Linked DNA regions of Homo sapiens: region 1 is linked to region 2. A link means that fine-mapping ties the variant in region 2 to the expression of a gene that starts in the linked region. Tissue or cell type: blood mononuclear cells. Region 2 holds a variant in brackets; the other region holds the start of a gene. All regions are shown on one strand. Distances are from middle to middle.

Region 1 (8,182 bases), 150 kb after region 2:
TAAACAAATTTTCATAGGAAAATACTTCCCTTTGACTATGCTACAGCTACTTCTGATTTCTCTAGAGCTGGAAAGTAAACAGGACTGGTGCTACCCTCGGCTTCACGGAGCTAATGCCTTTTCCAAAAGGAGTGAAACATACACTTCTCAGCACTCCAGATGGAGTAGATAGGAGTGAGTATTGGCCCACTCCCATTTCTATATCACAGTTCCCTCTTTCTATTATTAGTTTTCTTGAGAATATTATTTACTATTCAGTTCTGAGCTATTTCCTTTGCCTTCTGATGAACAGCTAAGCAGCCAGCTTGATAATAACCTTGTGATCCAGCTTCTTCAAATCTGCCTCACTAAGACTTGGGCTTTCTTTTGCAAAACACTAGGTGTCCTTTTAACATTGCCACCGGCCACCAGAAATTATCCAAGTGTCTAAGTGGACTTTTAAAAGGTTAAGTCCACTTCGTAGCACACCAACCAAAATTTCAATCTTATGCCTGAAGACTATCAAGTACTGTATCTACAGTTAAATAATTGTTTTAATTTGTTATTTTGCTTCACTGCAGAGCAGGGTGGTGGGCGGGTCGGTGGTTGGGTTAGGAACCAAGGAGGGAAATTAATGCAATGAAGAAAACAAATCTACAGAGATTCATCCCGAATCAGCCCCCAACTGGGATACTGGGTCAGAGCAGCCTGAAGTGTTGGTATATGCTCAGCAGTCCAAAGACATGGTTCTCAGGAATCCAGTTCCTTACAACATAACCCTAACTAGAATCTCCCTCATCCACCCCTTCCAGGACCACACATTCTAAGCAAAGAATGTCAACTAGCCAAAAGAAAAGGAAAGCAGGCCGATTTTGAACACTTTATGTCTGTGTGACCTTGAGAAAACTATCTAACTTCACTGGGGTTTCTTCATCTATGGTATATTTCATCCTCATAAAACCTCATGTGGAATTAAAATCCCCATGAGCAGATGAGAAAACCGAGAGACAGAGAGTTTAACAATTGGCCAAAGCTGCCCAAATTATCAGAATCCAAATTCTTTATCTTTCCACTTCTCAGGGCCCCTGCACTGCCCTGCCTCCCAAATATCTAAACACAAACAAGTCAATCAGTGCTAGGACCCGGCCACAGGCCCCTGAAAAGTAAAGAACTGATGCTGCCATCTCCTGTGTCCACAGCTACAATAACACCTGGTAGCCTTACAAATATTTAGATGCAATTTCAAAGTCAGCTCATAGAAAGAGGCATAAAAAAGAAAATGTATTATGGTCTTAATTCCCCTACATTTATAGTTCTCAACTGAGAATGCCAAGCCCTCAGACGCTCCCCCACGCCCTTAACAAAAAAAAATACTTCTTTTCTTCCAGTTAAGCCAAAATAAATATATGTACCCATCATTTATTCAATCAACCACATTTATGGATTACTATGGTGTCCAAGGAAGCTCTGAGCCAAAATAAAAAAGAGAAGGGAGAAGGCTGGCCTCTCCAAAGAGTAAAACCACAGCACACCCAGGGTGGGCCAGAAGCCTGGGAGTCCGCTCCTTGCAGCAGCCCAGGGATGACATGAGAAGAGTAGAAGCTGCATCAGAAAGCAACCTGCCCCCATCATTTCTGAACTTGATAAGGAAGTAGACTGGCAAGTCTTTTAATGCCAGGTCATGAATCTAGATCACAAGGAGACTTTCTTACTTGGGTGTACGGGCCTTTAGCTGACCTAATAGCTACTTCTCTACATGAAGCTACTGGAATGAAGCCCAGGCACTCTACCAACCCACTCTACCATTCCCCTCCCCTACCCACACACAGACATCACACACAGTCAATCCACATAACCTAAAGGAACTTTCAAGTGTTTCTGAGCTATTATTTTGATGCTCCATACTATTAAAACATTTAATAATAACTCTTCCAACTCTTCTAAATCACACTATTGTTCAGACCATGGAAGAAACTCAAATTAGAGGATGACAAACTAATGCCCCCTTGTCCAGCTCTGCCTAAGAAACCAAAATCTTGGGGACACACAGCCATAGATTTGTAAGTCCTTTCCTGATGACAGTAACTACCATTTTATAGTCAAGTATTAAACCTTCCCCTACATAATCATAACTTATTGCCATAACACCCTCAGAAAGTTATTATCATTGCATTGTATTGGTGAATAAAAGGAGGATCTGAGAAAGTAATTACCCAAGCTCACCCTCCTGGCAAATGAGGTTTCTAGAATTCAAACCCACCTCTGAGATCATCTTCCTACTACACTAGCCTGCCTCTATTCCCCAAAGAGACTGGCACTTAATAAACACTCTGTTAGTAATGAATTCAACCACAGGAGAGAGTAAGCCTTGGCATTTTTCTGACTGGAGGAATCTTCCTACCTGCACCCACTCTAGGGACTATATGACAATGACTTTCGGCCTCGGGAGACGGCCATCTCCACCTGAACTGGGCCCAGCACATAGGTGAGCCTTGAGCATTCCACTCTTCCCACTCTTTCTTGCCCCAGAATCCCAGAGCTGGAGCACTGAGGCAATTCCGGAACAGCATCTACTGTCTGATATGTGGGGATAGGAGTGGAAAGGGGAAAAGAACAGCTTGTGCCTTCGGGAATTTGCTCCCTGAAGTCCCTGCAGTGATTTCGTTTGTGTCTGGCTTCCTACAAACAAAGCAGAACAATGAGAGGAAGGAATACCAGGAGGCACCAGCGCTAGCTGGAAGGAGAGGAAGTTTGTGGTGCTCGCCAGCAGGGCGGTTCCCGGCCACTAGTGTACTGCAGCTGGGCAGGCACACTCCTCGCAGACCCGGCGCTCTCCAAGGAGAAAAGAAAGTTAGTGGGCTTGGGGTACGTTTCCCTTCTTTTCCTAGAAGAGGGTGGCAGGGGGGCTGGCTCAGAAAGAAACCATCACTGACCAACACTTGGGGTACTCTGTCAAAATGCTGCTCCTTCCATACTGAGTCTCTTTGCTCCTCCTCTTTCCCCCAGTCAACCTGGGGTTAAGTGGGAAGGGGAGTAAGGCAACTCCAGGGGATGCCTTCCAAACTCCGGGAGAGGGAAAGCACAGGAATTGGGAGAAGACGTGAAGGCAGAGCTTGAACTCCTATGTACCCGGTGACACAAGACTGCTCTGAGGGTGGCGCCCGCTGCTTCTCCCGGGCGCCCCGCCAGCCGCTCTCCCTGGCAGTGGCGCCCTTTCCTCGCCCTCTGCCCGCCCAAGAGCTGCTGGCCCAGAGCAGCCGCATTCCCGACCCTCCAAGGCGAAGATCCCCTGGATTCACCCCCTCACTGGCCTTTCCGCCTAACTGACTGAAACCCGGCTCCCCAGGCACAGATTTTCCAGCCTCCCTAAGAAATGAAAGGTTCGCGTGCCCTTCACCTCCCTCCCTGCTTTCCAGCGTCCTCAGCGCCTCCCCGAACAGCCAGACAGTGGAGCGCCCCGTGTTGGGGAGAGGAGGGGAGCAGACGCCTCCGAAGTTTGGAAAAGTTACACAGGGGCTGGGGACTGGGGGTAGGGGGTGCCGACCGGGAGAAGGGGAGGGTCACCTGTTGAGGGAGGGAGGGAAAGTTTGCCTGGCCCCGCCTCCTCCTCGGGGCACCCCGCTCCCAGCCGCGCCGCGCCTCCCCACCTGGCCCGCGCTCACCTTGAGGCCGCGGATCTCGCCGAGGTGCAGCTGCAGGCGGCGGTTCACCTCGCGGATGAGGTTGCTGTGGTCCAGCATCGCGCTCACCTTCTCCGCCTCGGCGCGCCGCAGGCTGCGGATCAGCTCCTCCTTGCTCCACTGCAGCAGCTCCTCGTCCGACACTTTGGACAGGTCCTCCACCGGCGCGGGCGGGGCCGCGGACGAGCCGGCCGGGGCTGGGGAACAACTTTCCGCCGCCGCCGCAGCCGCCGCCGCGCCTCCGGCCGCCTTCGACATGGTATCCGCGGGGTGGCAGGTGCAAGTGGGTGGAAGAGGCGAGGCGACTCCCGAAGGCGCGGGCGCGGCGAGGCCGCCTCCGCCCACACCCCTGTGCGCTCCGGCGAGTCAGCGGCACCGCCCAGGGGCCGCTGGGTTGGGGCGGCGGGGGTCGCGCTGGGTGGCCATCCTACCTCGCCATCCCCGCGCGCGCGCCCGCGCTCCCCCAGGGCCCGGCAGCCAGCCGCTTGCTGCTGCCGAGGCCCGTCCCAACTCCGCGCAAGTCCATGGTGAGGGGCACTGGGGAGCCCGGGGCTGCCGCGGGAAATCCTCGGGGACAGCGGGGGAGCTGCACCGCCGTTCCCCTGCCCTCTCCTCCGCCCTAAGCCGAGACTGTCGCCCCCCGCACTCTCTGCCCTGCACACAGGCGTGCACGCACACGCACTTTCCTCCCCCTTGCCCAGCTGCAGCCCCCGGCTTCTCCCCTCTCCTAGCTTGGAGGGCGCGCCGGGCACCGCGGCGCCTCCCCGGCTGCTCTAGCGACGCCGCCGCGGCTGCCCGAAGGCTGCTGCGCTCCTCCTGCCGCCTTCGCTGCGCCCGCGGCCGCTCCTAGGCTGCTCCGGAAAGCCTTCGATTTGCAGAGCGGAGTCGAGAAGGGGTGGAGGGTGGGGGACCGGCTGGAGGAGGAGCCTGGAGCTGGGGCCACCCGTAACCCGCAGCAGCTCCCGCATGGGCTGGACGCAGCTGCCACTCGACCGCTGCCCGGGCCCTCGAGGTGCGCTCCCGGCTGTCCTGCCCGGGAGGGCTGGGGGCGCGGCTCTTTCTGCGCCCGGGCGGGTGGGGCTGGAATGGGGAGAAGGTGAGGAGCTGTGGCCGCCCGGTCTTTGGGAGGCTCGCGCGCGCCACCGTGTGGCGGAAGAAGCTCCCTCCTCTGCCCTCTGCACACCGGCCTTGTCACCAGGCAGGGGAAACAGCTGCTGACCCAAATGCGAGGTGCTTCGTATTTGGAGGGATCGGGGATCAGGAAAGATGGGGTAGCAGGACCTGAGGGATAACCAGTTATTTGCACTTTGGAGAATGGGAGGAGAGGCAAATGGCAAAAACGGGGGTTGGGGAAAGGGGCAGCTTAAGAAAATCCAAATGGTCTGAAAAGGGCGAAAAGAGGCGTCAGGGCACTGCTCTTATGGGGCTACCCATCCCCACCCCCCACTCTCGCCCCACCCCTAGGCCTTTGTGTTTTCTAAAAATCCACTACTCTATGAAGAAGCTTCGGGAGAAGGTACTGGATCTTTTAAATTTTTATTTGAAAAATATCAAAGCCTTTAGGCGAAAATAAAATACCTTCATCTCCTGCTTCCTGAAACCTGGATTTTAAGGTCAGCACAGTCACCTCCCCTCGGAGCAAAGCAAGCCCCCTCAGGCAAGCTGAAATGCCAGCCAAGGAGATTTCCATTTTCTTCTATGCCGCAGGCTGCCAGGCGTTTACTGGGTCGGCTTTTTTATGATGGTTATTTCTGGAAGGAGGAAGTCTGAGTCCCTGGCTTCTATCTTTGGGCTATCCTCTTGTAAAGTTGGGTGGAATCGTCTCTGGGCTGAAAACATGCTTTTGCCTAAAGAGGTGGATGCCCTTGACCACCGCATGTTATTTCCAGTGGGGTACAGGGCCGGAAAATGGCAAGGATCTACCCCCACCGGGTTTCAGTTAACCCGGGTGCAGAGGGAATAATCTCTATCTGGTAGGATGATAATCAAAATCAGTCCCTTCACCCGCCGGTCAGTGCGTGTCCCCTATTGGGGACACTGAGACCTGGCTCCCGGGAGAGGCAAGGAAATGTGGTACTGCTTACGGTGACCAAATGGCCTTAACATTCCCCTCAGCTTAACTAAACTTTAGACAGGTTTCTTCCTAACTGTAGGCCCCAGACCTTCCTTTTCTCAGAGCATTTACTTTAGCCAACTTCCATTGGTGAATGTTTCCTCTGACCCTTTGACATGTAAATCTCTCCGCCTCTTGCTGGGTTTTACAGCCTGGGGATCTTTCTCAGGGATCTGTGAGGCATCCCTTTGAAATGTAATCATCAAGGAAAAAAGGGTCCCTATCTCCTAGTGTTTGTGGAGAGGAGGAGCCTAACTTTAATAAGTTCCAATTAGGAAACACAAATGGCCTCATTACACTGACCAACTTCCCATCCTAATCTCCTCCACTAGTCTTCTACTAGTTCCCCTCTCCCTCCCTCTCTCTCTTCCCTATTGCAATAGCCTTGAATAATTCCCCCTTGTCTGTTTAACTATATCGGATGCAATTTTTCTTTGACACCTCCAAGCCGCTCTCACGCCCACAGAAGGCTCTGCTCAACACAGTTCCTAAGACCAGTTTTGTCACAGAAAGGGAAAGTGAAGGTCAGAAAAAGATAAGTCCTATCTCTGTTACTTGTTAGTTCTTGTCCTTGAACAAACCATCCGACCTTACTGGCCCTCGGGCAGCTAATGATATGGTATACAAGAAGCGCTTGATCGAGCCACCCTACAGAAATGCAACCTTACTATTACTGATATTACATATTACATTGGGCAGCCTCTTGTCTAGAAATAGGAACCAGGACTTCTGTTTATTCCTCCATCACGGGTTCTTCAAGAGTCGTATTCTAAAATGAAACAGCCAGCCCCCTTCTCTGCTAACTCCCTCTGATCAGTTAACACCAAATAGATATGAGAAATCAGAGAGATGGCTGAGAGGAAAAATTAGACTTGTGTTGGGAAGACAAGGAAGAAGGAAAGCCAAAAAAAAAAAAAAAGTCTCCACAAATTATATACACTAGCAGTGGATTACAGTTGAGCTAGATCACCTTAAGGTTTTCATGTTTCTAATTTTGGTCATTGATTCAGAATAATAATTATCTGCATGAATGAATAATGTTGCTTCATGTTGCTAAGGTCATGTATGGTGTCAGGAGCTTCATTTGACTGCTAAAAACAGAAACTCAAAAAACAGTCACTTTAAAAAAGTCATTTATTTTTTCTCACCTACCTGGTATTCTAAAGAGAGGCAGCTGAGGGCTGGTATGGTATCTTCATGAGGTCGTCAAAATCTTAGGCTCCTTCTCTCAGCTCAGTCCCCTTTGGGATGATTGCCTCGTGTCCATAACATGGTTGGTGGAACTCTAGCCATCCAGCTACGTGTAAGGCAGGAAGAAGGTAATAACAACTGCAAAGGGGCACATGCCCCTTTAAAAACTTTTCCTGGTGGCCGGGGGCGGTGGCTCATAACTGTAATCCCAGCACTTTGGGCGTCCGATGCAGGTGGATCATTTGAGGTCAGGAATTCAAGACCAGCCTGGCCAATATGGTGAAACCCCATCTTTACTAAAAATACAAAAATTAGCTGGGCATGGTGGTGCGTGCCTATAATCCCAGCTATCGGGAGGCTGAGGCAGGAGAATCGCTTGAGCCTGGGACGCGGAGGTTGTGGTGAGCCAGGATCGTGCCACTGCACTCCACTCTGGTCGAAAGAGTGAGACCCTGTCTCAAAAAAAAAAAAAAAAATCCTGGTAATTGACCCAGTGAATTTTGTTTATGTTCTAATAGGCAGAGCTTACCATATAATCACCTCCCAGCTGCAAGGGAAGCTAGGACAGTGTTTTAAGTTGGGTATATTAAATGGAGATTTCTGAAAACCAGCCATAAATGACCCTACGTCTTTAGTCCTGATGGTTTTATATCATATAATTTTCTTCAGTCAACTCTATTTCCCCCCAGCTCACTGTTACTCAGCCTAGGTTCTCACTAAGTCTCACCTGGCCCTTCTCACTGGTCCCTCTGACTACTGCATCACCTCTCTCGAATCTGCTTTCCACACAACTTCCCAAGTGAATCATCTCAAAAAGTCAAGTCTAGCTACTTTACCCCTGAGACAGATTGAATTATTGCTGATAATTTTTCACAACCTCCCTACAAAATTAATTAACATCGGCCAGGTGTGGTGGCTCACGCCTGTAATCCCAGCTCTTTGGGAGGCCAAGGCGGGTGGATCACGAGATCAGGAGATCTAGACCACCCTGGATAACACGGTGAAACCCCGTCTCTACTAAAAATACAAAATATTAGCCGGGCGTGGTGTCGGGTACCTGTAGTCCCAGCTACTCGGGAGGCTGAGGTGGGAGAATGGCGTGAACCCAGGAGGCGGAGCTTGCAGTGAGCCAAGATAGCACCACTGCACTCCAGCCTGACGGCATAGCGAGACTCTGTCTCAAAAAAAAAAAAAAAAAAAAATTAACATCACCTTCCAC
Region 2 (8,182 bases):
TAAATGGCACTGACTAGCTATGAGCTTCTGGAAGTCACCCACCTGGGGCAGCATGCGATTTTCTTCCTCCAGCTGTCTTACTCTTGCCTCCAGCTGCCTAACATAGGACAAGGTTGATTCTAAAATTAAAAAGAAAGAACTCACATTATACACACAGGTCTTGTTTGGTGTACTGTCAGGATATTTCTGGCTTGATTTATTCAAATCAGACAGTGACTATTTAGTCTGTTATTTAAAATGAGAAAAAAAAATATCTCCCAGAAAAATAAGAACAGAAGCCACTGAAACTAAAAACAGTTTTGAACAATTTTACAACGTTAAGAAATATTAGATAAGACACAGACTGGCATATTTACAGGTGGTAGTACACACAATTGACGATTAGTATTAAGATTCTATACAGAACTCTTACAAACCAATAAGAAAACACAAGTAAAGGTATGGAAAATATTTGTCAGAAGTGGAAACACACTAGACAAATAAACCTAAGAGAAGCAGTCCAACATCATTATTAATTAGTAAAATCACGCACACTTAGAACAGGGCAAAACCAGAACTCAAACCTGAATCTAATACCGAAATCCAGTCTCTCCACTACTCTAAGCCCTTTTAGCTATTTTTAATCACTAAGAATTGAGACATTTCAGAGGAAGACTTTTAAAAATATTTCTGAAGTTTGATCCTCTTAAGATGGAACAAATATTTTTCTGAAGTCAAATCGTTTTCCACAAATCTTTCTTAAATGTTTAGTATTTCCTGTTCTGCAATAAAGTGTATTGAGGTCAATTTAAAAAAAAAAAAGTATTAGAGAAAATTATAGGTGGTGAGACTGCAGGCTTTTTGCACACCAACCAGCCTCAGAATAATAGGCATCTTGAAGACAATTATACTCTTTTCTTCTGATTTTGTACATTTTGAGTTGTCAATGAGTTGTTCTACATATACAAGACTATTTTGTAATGTTAACTATAACCAAAATAAACTACAAAGCTACATTAAAAAAAAAAACAGAAAATAAAACAAAATTTTTCAAACATCCAGTTCTCTTTATTTCTCCCAATAAAAATTTCAAGACTTAAGAAAAATATTTGTTCTTTTCACAAACTTACAGACATTGACAGAAAAAACATGAAAGAGCTATTTAGAGTTAGAATGAATTTTGACTGATTTTGGCTGACTGTGACAGAGACCCAAGTTTTTCACACATCTTTAGGTAAACCAGGAGCAGACCTGAAATTGACTATTTTTTTCATTTCTTCACAAGCTCAGGCATGAGCTGAAAGCTCAGAATCATTATCATGCTTAGCTTCTGTTCCATACTGAACTCTAAAGTTTATGGCTTTATGTCAGGAAAAGGGGTCACAGGTGAAGAAAAGTAAAATTTTATTTCTGGGAACAATCTGATAGTAACTCTTCTTCATTAAAGTGAAAATATTCAAGATCATCACATAGTAGCAATTCATTCATCACACAACAACAAAATATTTCAGGTGCAGTGAAAGGTACACAGCAATAGACTTTCTCCAGAGCACACTTCTGTTACATTAGGTAGCTAGTCAAACATGAGCAAGGCAGGAGAGGGCTCCCCGCAAGCCCACCCACCAAGAATGTCAGGCAACCATCACGGGATAGTCAGGTGGTTGTTAACTGTCTCTCTAAAATAATAATTAGTTGCAGTCAACCCAATAGATAGAAAAAACCTGGTACTGTTGATTACCACTTCCCCAGTAAGATCTCTGGAGTTGGGCGAGTGGTCTCAAGCGTGTGTACTAAGAGGAAAAATAGCAGTTTAATTGGTATATGATCTTCCTCTGGAAATGCGAGACGGCTAAGGGAAGAATGCCTCAAGTGAGCGTGCATACATCTTCAGTAAACACACTGCACATGCTCCCCTCCCAAGAGCTAGCAGGCCACTGCACATGTGGACAGTTCATCTCAAGGGAAGAATCAGTGTAGAAGGGACATGAAACCCCAGAAGTACGCCAATGTATAAAACCCAAGTCAAAAGGTCAAACAGTGCACTTGATCTCTCAAGTCACCCACCTGACCCTGACTCTCTTCCAAATGTACTTTACTTCCTTTCATTCCTGCTCTAAAGCTTTTTTTTTTTTTTTTTTTTTTGAGATGGAGTTTCACTGTTGTTGCCCAGGCTGGAGTGCAGTGGCGCGATCTCGGCTCACCACAACCTCCGCCTCCCAGGTTCAAGCGATTCTCCTGCCTCAGCCTCCCTAGCAGTTGGGATTACAGGCATGTGCCACCACGCCTGGCTATTTTTTGTATTTTTAGTAGAGACAGGGTTTCTCCATGTTGGTCAGGCTGGTCTCGAACTCCCGACCTCAAAAGATCCTCCCGCCTCGGCCTCCCAAAGTGCTGGGATTACAGGCATGAGCTACCACGCACAGCCATTCTAAAGCTTTTTAATAAACTTTCACTACTGCTCTAAAACTTGCCTCGGCTTCTTCTTCTGCTTTATGCCCCTCAGTCGAATTAGGGGCAAGAACTGGGGCTGCTGCAGACTCATATGGTTTCGCTACTGGTAACACTTCCATAGTTAATATTGAAGCAGAACAACCTCCTCAGTGTTCATGTTCTTCAGCCTCAGACACACAAAAAGGGCAAGAGGCAATACGGTAGTGCACCTAAGTGTTTGGAGCCCCTAAGGATCCACAGTTAGGATGGATATTGATGCCCTGATCTGAATTTCATCATGGAAACACAATTATTTTATGTGGAAATAGTTTATATGAACCCAATTCTATTTTTATGACCTCTAAAGCAATGAGCTAACACTTTATTTTCTAAAATACATAAGCATCAGTCCTTAATTCACAAATACAACAATTAAGCTCATCTCTGACTAGCTTAGAGCAGGCCTGTTTTCCAAAATAGTGTGCAGAAAGCCCCCATCACTGACATTAACATGATGACCCACAGACCTCACACCATTGGAGACAATTAGCTTTGAGCATTTCTCAAATAAGAAAATAGAAACACAGGTAAAGAAAACTGAAGATATTTGCTAAAGATATCCTCTCATTTTTTTAGCTTAATAAAATCTTAAAACTCTGCTTTATGGACTCTTCCAAAGAGGGGAAAAGTATGCAGCATAAATGAATAGCAAAGTTATTGATTTCATGAGTCTGCTTTACTCTTGCAAATGAATTCAGTGATTTGCAGATCATCAAGATGTGAATGTAGATTGCCTGATTTACACTGTTTTGCAAGCCCTGCTCTTTCCTCTGGAAAAAAAAAACCACTTGATAAGGCCATCCAAGTGAAAAGTTCATCAGCAATATTCTATTTAAACCACACAAAAATAAAGTTATTTTCTTTTTTGTTCACAATTTACACCTTATCTTTATTGCCCCTATGCTGCACTATCTATAAGGCTGTGATACTTAAAGCAGCTGAAAAGACTACACAGATTGAGTCAGGTGAAATTTGAAAAATGCTATTGAACGGAATTTGTTTTAATTCAGTGACTGTCTTCAATCCCTTCATCTATTTCTCTTTTCAAAATCTTTGCAGTTTATATATCTGATGTTTTCACCAAGTCTCTATTTATATTATGAAAGTATTATGTCAGTTCAGGAAAAAAGGGGTAAATTCCTGAGTTTGGAAAATATCCTCTCTCGTTTTTAATGTTGAATTACAATAGATCATGTCCACATCTTTTTTCTAAAGCATTCACTGCAAATATGGGCTGGGACAGGAAGAGACAGAGCATAGTTTTAAACAGGTGAAATAATGAAAAAAAATGGCTTTACAGTGAAGGCAAAGGCAAAAACATTTTAAGTTCATTCATTCAACAAATATTTATTGTGTCACTGATTTGTGTCAGGCACTGTTCTAGGGTTAGGATGAAGATAAAGCCAGTTATTGCAAACCTTAATAACTTTCTCAGAACACACATTCCCTATTAGATTACAGGCATTCCAGAAGGTCCTGTTAATTGTTCCAGGTTCTTAGCCCCTGTTGCAATTATTACTTAACAATTAATGGATACTCAAACAAAAATACACTCTTCCTGGGGGTAAAACACAGGAAGAATATCTGATCTACATGTATAAATAAGAGTACTCAGGCTGTTTTGTTTCATTCAGAAAGAAACTGATTACACCATCCTTTAATGGGAGTGGAGTAGAAAAATATTTTTCTGGAATATACTGTGAGATCAGCACTGGGTCCCCAAGCCCCTATAGGAAAAGCCATTAAAAAAAAAATCCAATCTCCCAACTGTGACATGAGAAAAAAAGAAGAAATATTTGTTTCGTTAAACCCTTGGGATTTTGAGGTTTGTTACTTACCATAGGTCAGCTGAGCCTGACTAGTAGTGCATAACCAATAATTAAATTTTTTAAAATGTAAGCTATATTTTAAATAAAATAGAATAAAATAAAGTATAAGAAACTCAACACTTTCTTAAAAAAAGTCACATCCAAATCCACATCTCAGTCATAGCTAATCATTAGGAAAAATTGATAGAAACTTCTCATGGTGAGAGGAAGAGAAGAAAGAAGCCTTTTGGGTACTGGAACACATTGACCACATCCGCTGCAACCCCCTTCCCCATGCTGCT[A/T]TTTCCCTTTTTTGTCCTTTTTCAAGGGTGTCAACTATAATATAAGGTGATCTCCCGGTACACTCAGGGAACATGATGGATAGCTGTACCTAAGGGAAGTGTCTAAAACTGGCATTCATTTTATCATAAAGTCATTAATAGAAAGCTGCATTTGAATGTACCATAATTTAAATTGACCATTACATTTTATACCACTGGCTGACAGCTTCATAAAACTGAGATTTCAGAATGCCATTTTTGGCTTTTAGAACTCTGAGAATGAGGCTCCAAAAGAGCATCAAAAAACAGCCAAATTCTCAGCTACAAAGTACATAAATATATAATGCATTAAAAAAGGAGCTGGCTAGGTGGCTCAAGCCTGTAATCCCAGCACTTTGGGAGGCTGAGGCAGGCGGATCACGAGGTCAAGAGGTCGAGATCATCCTGGCCAACATGGTGAAACCCTGTCTCCACTAAAAATACAAAAATTAGCCGGGCATGGTGGCAGCTGCCTGTAATCCCAGCTACTCGGGAGGCTGAGGCAGGAGAATCGCTTGAACCCGGGAGGCGGAGGTTGCAGTGAGCGGAGATCGTGCCACTGCACTCCAGCTTGGGTGACAGAGCCATACTCTGTCTCAAAAAAAAAAGAAAAAAAAAAGGAGCCTATATTCAAGAAACTTATAAGCAGTTGGGAGAAAATAAAAGGGAAAAAACAATAAGGTAATTTGAAATTTAGTACTAAATCCTGTGAAAGGGGAGCAAAGAAAAAAATCAACATTGGCAGTAGTTCTTACGAAGGAGAAACTGAAGCTTAAAATGCATCAATAGAATTTTGATAGGCCAGAGAGATATGAGTGGAGCCACAGATGGACCTGGGCCAGAAGCCAAAAATGATCCTATTGTAAACACAGAAAGAAAGGAATCACATGACGGAAAAGAAAGGGACATGCAGGTACAGGAGGAGAGGCCAGATTATTTCCCACAGTCACCTATCTGGAAAAGCAAATATCAAATCACGATAATCCAGTGGCAATTTGCTTTAAAGCTCCCAAAAGTTATTTTATTTCTCTTTCCACCCTGGGAAACCTATGGGCATCTAGACATTAGAAAAGTAAGGTGAAGCAAACGATATTGATGTGAAAATCCAATGACATCCTCAAGATGTTCTTTGGGTGAATCTCAGGCCCATTTTCAAAGCAGGAACTATTCTTTGAACCTATGTGTAAAAGTTCACAGCATCTGTTGCAAGAAAAACAAATTAAGAAACATGCATAAAAATTCCATTAAATTCCGCATCTTCTAAATTCAAATTTTACTGGTACTACGTACCTTAGAGCTTTTCTAATTCAACTTCTGCCACAATCCTCTGACTTGTTTTGCAAATAAGAGAACTAAAGCTCAGAGTGCGATGAACTTGGTTGCTAACAATGGGGACTAGTCAAATATATTCAAACAATTGTGTTTCATTACTCGAGCACCACATTAATTCTCATATTGGATCTACTAATCATGAAGTAACATACATAGATAAATACTAAATTCTTTTTTTTTCCTCCCTGACTTTAGATATTCTTGATGGATTTACCTTTACAGTAACTTGATATTTCCTCAGACAATATTCTTGACTTGATTTCACTTCAGCTAACCTGCAATGCATTCAATTGTATAAAGGAGCTCTGTTCGTTTTCTCTGTTAGTTTGAAAACACTCTGATAAAAATATGAAACCCTCTTTACTTCCCTTTTGTTTCTAAGGCAGTGTTACCCTACAGAACACCTATCCTTGAAATCACCCACAAATTACACTGATGATTGTATATAAAAGGTTTATTATTGGTATTTGCAACTGTCTAAGGTTTGTCACACCTCTGAGTGGTTTTGATTAGATGAAGTGATGTCATCTCTCCAAAATCTCAGGGCAGAAAATAAAATCTGGTAATGGTCCATTCTGACACAAACTACAGCATTTTTAAGAGTGTATAAGAGGAGGCTGGGCACACTGGCTTGCACCTACAGTCCTAGCACTTTGGGAGGCCAAGGCAGGCAGATCACCTGAGGTCAGGAGTTCGAGATCAGCCTTGACAATATGGTGAAACCCCGTATCTACTAAAAATACAAAAATTAGCCAGGTGTGGTGGTGCATGCCTGTACTCCCGCTACTCGAGAGGCTGAGGCAGGAGAATTGCTTGAACCTGGGAGGTGGAGGTTGCAGTGAGCTGAGACAGTGTCATTGCACTCCAGCCTGGGGGGACAAGAGTGAAACTCCATCTGAAAAAATAAATAAATAAATAAATAAAGAGTGTATATGAGGAAAATTATCTGGAAGACTATAGTGGCCATGAGTTTATAGATGTTAGCTTTTATGTGGCTCTCTAAGAATTAGTCTCTGTGTTGGCTTGACTGTTTATCCCTTTCAAAAATCATGCTGAAATTTAATTGTCATTGTAACAGTATTAAGAGGTGGGACCTTTAAGAGGTGACTAGGCCATGAGGGCTCCACCCTCATGGGTGGGATTGGTGCTCTTATAAAAAGATGAGTTTGGGTCAGGCGCAGTGGCTCACGCCTGTAATCCCAGCACTTTAGCAGGCTGAGGCAGGCGGACCACGAGGTCAGGAGTTTGAGGCTAGCCTGGCCAACATGGTGAAATCCCGTCTCTACTAAAGATACAAAAATTAGCCTGGCGTGGTGGCAGGCACCTGTAATCCCAGCTACTCAGGAGGCTGAGGCAGGAGAATTGATTGATCCTGGGAGGCAGTGGTTGCAGTGGGCCCAGATTGTGCCACTGCACTCCAGCCTGAGTGACAGGGCAAGACTACTTCTCAAAAAAAAAAAAAAAGATGAGTTTGGCCCCCTCTTGCTGTCTTACCTTCAGCCATGACATGATGTACCAAGAAGGCCCTTACTGAATACTAACCCCTTGATCTTGGATTCCTCAGTCTCTAGAACTGTGAGCTAATAAATTTCTGTTCACTATAAATCACCCAGTCTGTGGTATTCTGTTATAGTAGCAAAAAGTGGACTAAGATAGTCTCTCTCAGCAAAAGAGGCCAATAGCCACATGCTTTCCAATTCACAGACAAACTTTTCAATAAACCCCAAGCGCTAAAGGCATGGCTTGCACTCATTCCATATGAATCCCACTATCCACAGGCTTTTTCACATCCCTAAGGAAATTACGTCAGAACTGTGTATTTTAAAAATTATTACTGTTCTGAACAAAGTGTTTTTCTTCTTCAGGCAAGCAAAGGTCAGCCTCCTACTTAGAATCCATATTAACTCCACAAGTATAAGTGATTATATTTCTCACTAAAATTTGACGCTTTTCTTATTTTAAAAAAAATTTGTTGGAACCAGCACTTTCAGATTTGCCTGGATATTTAATTCATACTGCCTTATTAACAGAAATAGAATTTTTAATGGGGCTTTAATTGCCCTAAATAATCTAAAATTGATATCAGATTTTGCCCTAGTCCACTATTTATGAAGCAAATTCTACTCTTCTCAGACCTTTTTCTCTCTGCCTACCCAAAAGAGATGACAGTTAGTTCCTCTTCCCCTCCTCCCATGCAGAAATCCTTTCAGTTTGTCTTTGGCCCAGAGCTCTCTTAGCTCTGTGTCTCTGCCC

Evidence for each region. PIP is the estimated chance that this variant, and not a neighbour inherited with it, causes the effect.
Region 1: CCDC85A starts here. The variant in region 2 is fine-mapped to the expression of CCDC85A in blood mononuclear cells (TOPMed, PIP above 0.99).

The regions. Positions count from the first base shown.
Region 1 is chr2:56,180,360-56,188,541 of GRCh38, reverse strand. It overlaps CCDC85A (coiled-coil domain containing 85A), which reads right to left and starts at 4,552. Exons shown (of 6, transcript NM_001080433.2): 1 at 3,642-4,552. The coding sequence starts at 3,917. It overlaps LOC100129434 (a long non-coding RNA gene), which reads left to right and starts at 2,772. Exons shown (of 3, transcript NR_125368.1): 1 at 2,772-2,844. RefSeq lists a silencer at 4,553-4,882.
Region 2 is chr2:56,334,816-56,342,997 of GRCh38, reverse strand. CCDC85A (coiled-coil domain containing 85A) reads right to left here. Exons shown (of 6, transcript NM_001080433.2): 3 at 43-119. Among named protein-coding and RNA genes, the nearest start is that of CCDC85A, 150 kb to the right of the region's middle. The variant A/T (reference allele first, on the strand shown) is at 4,580.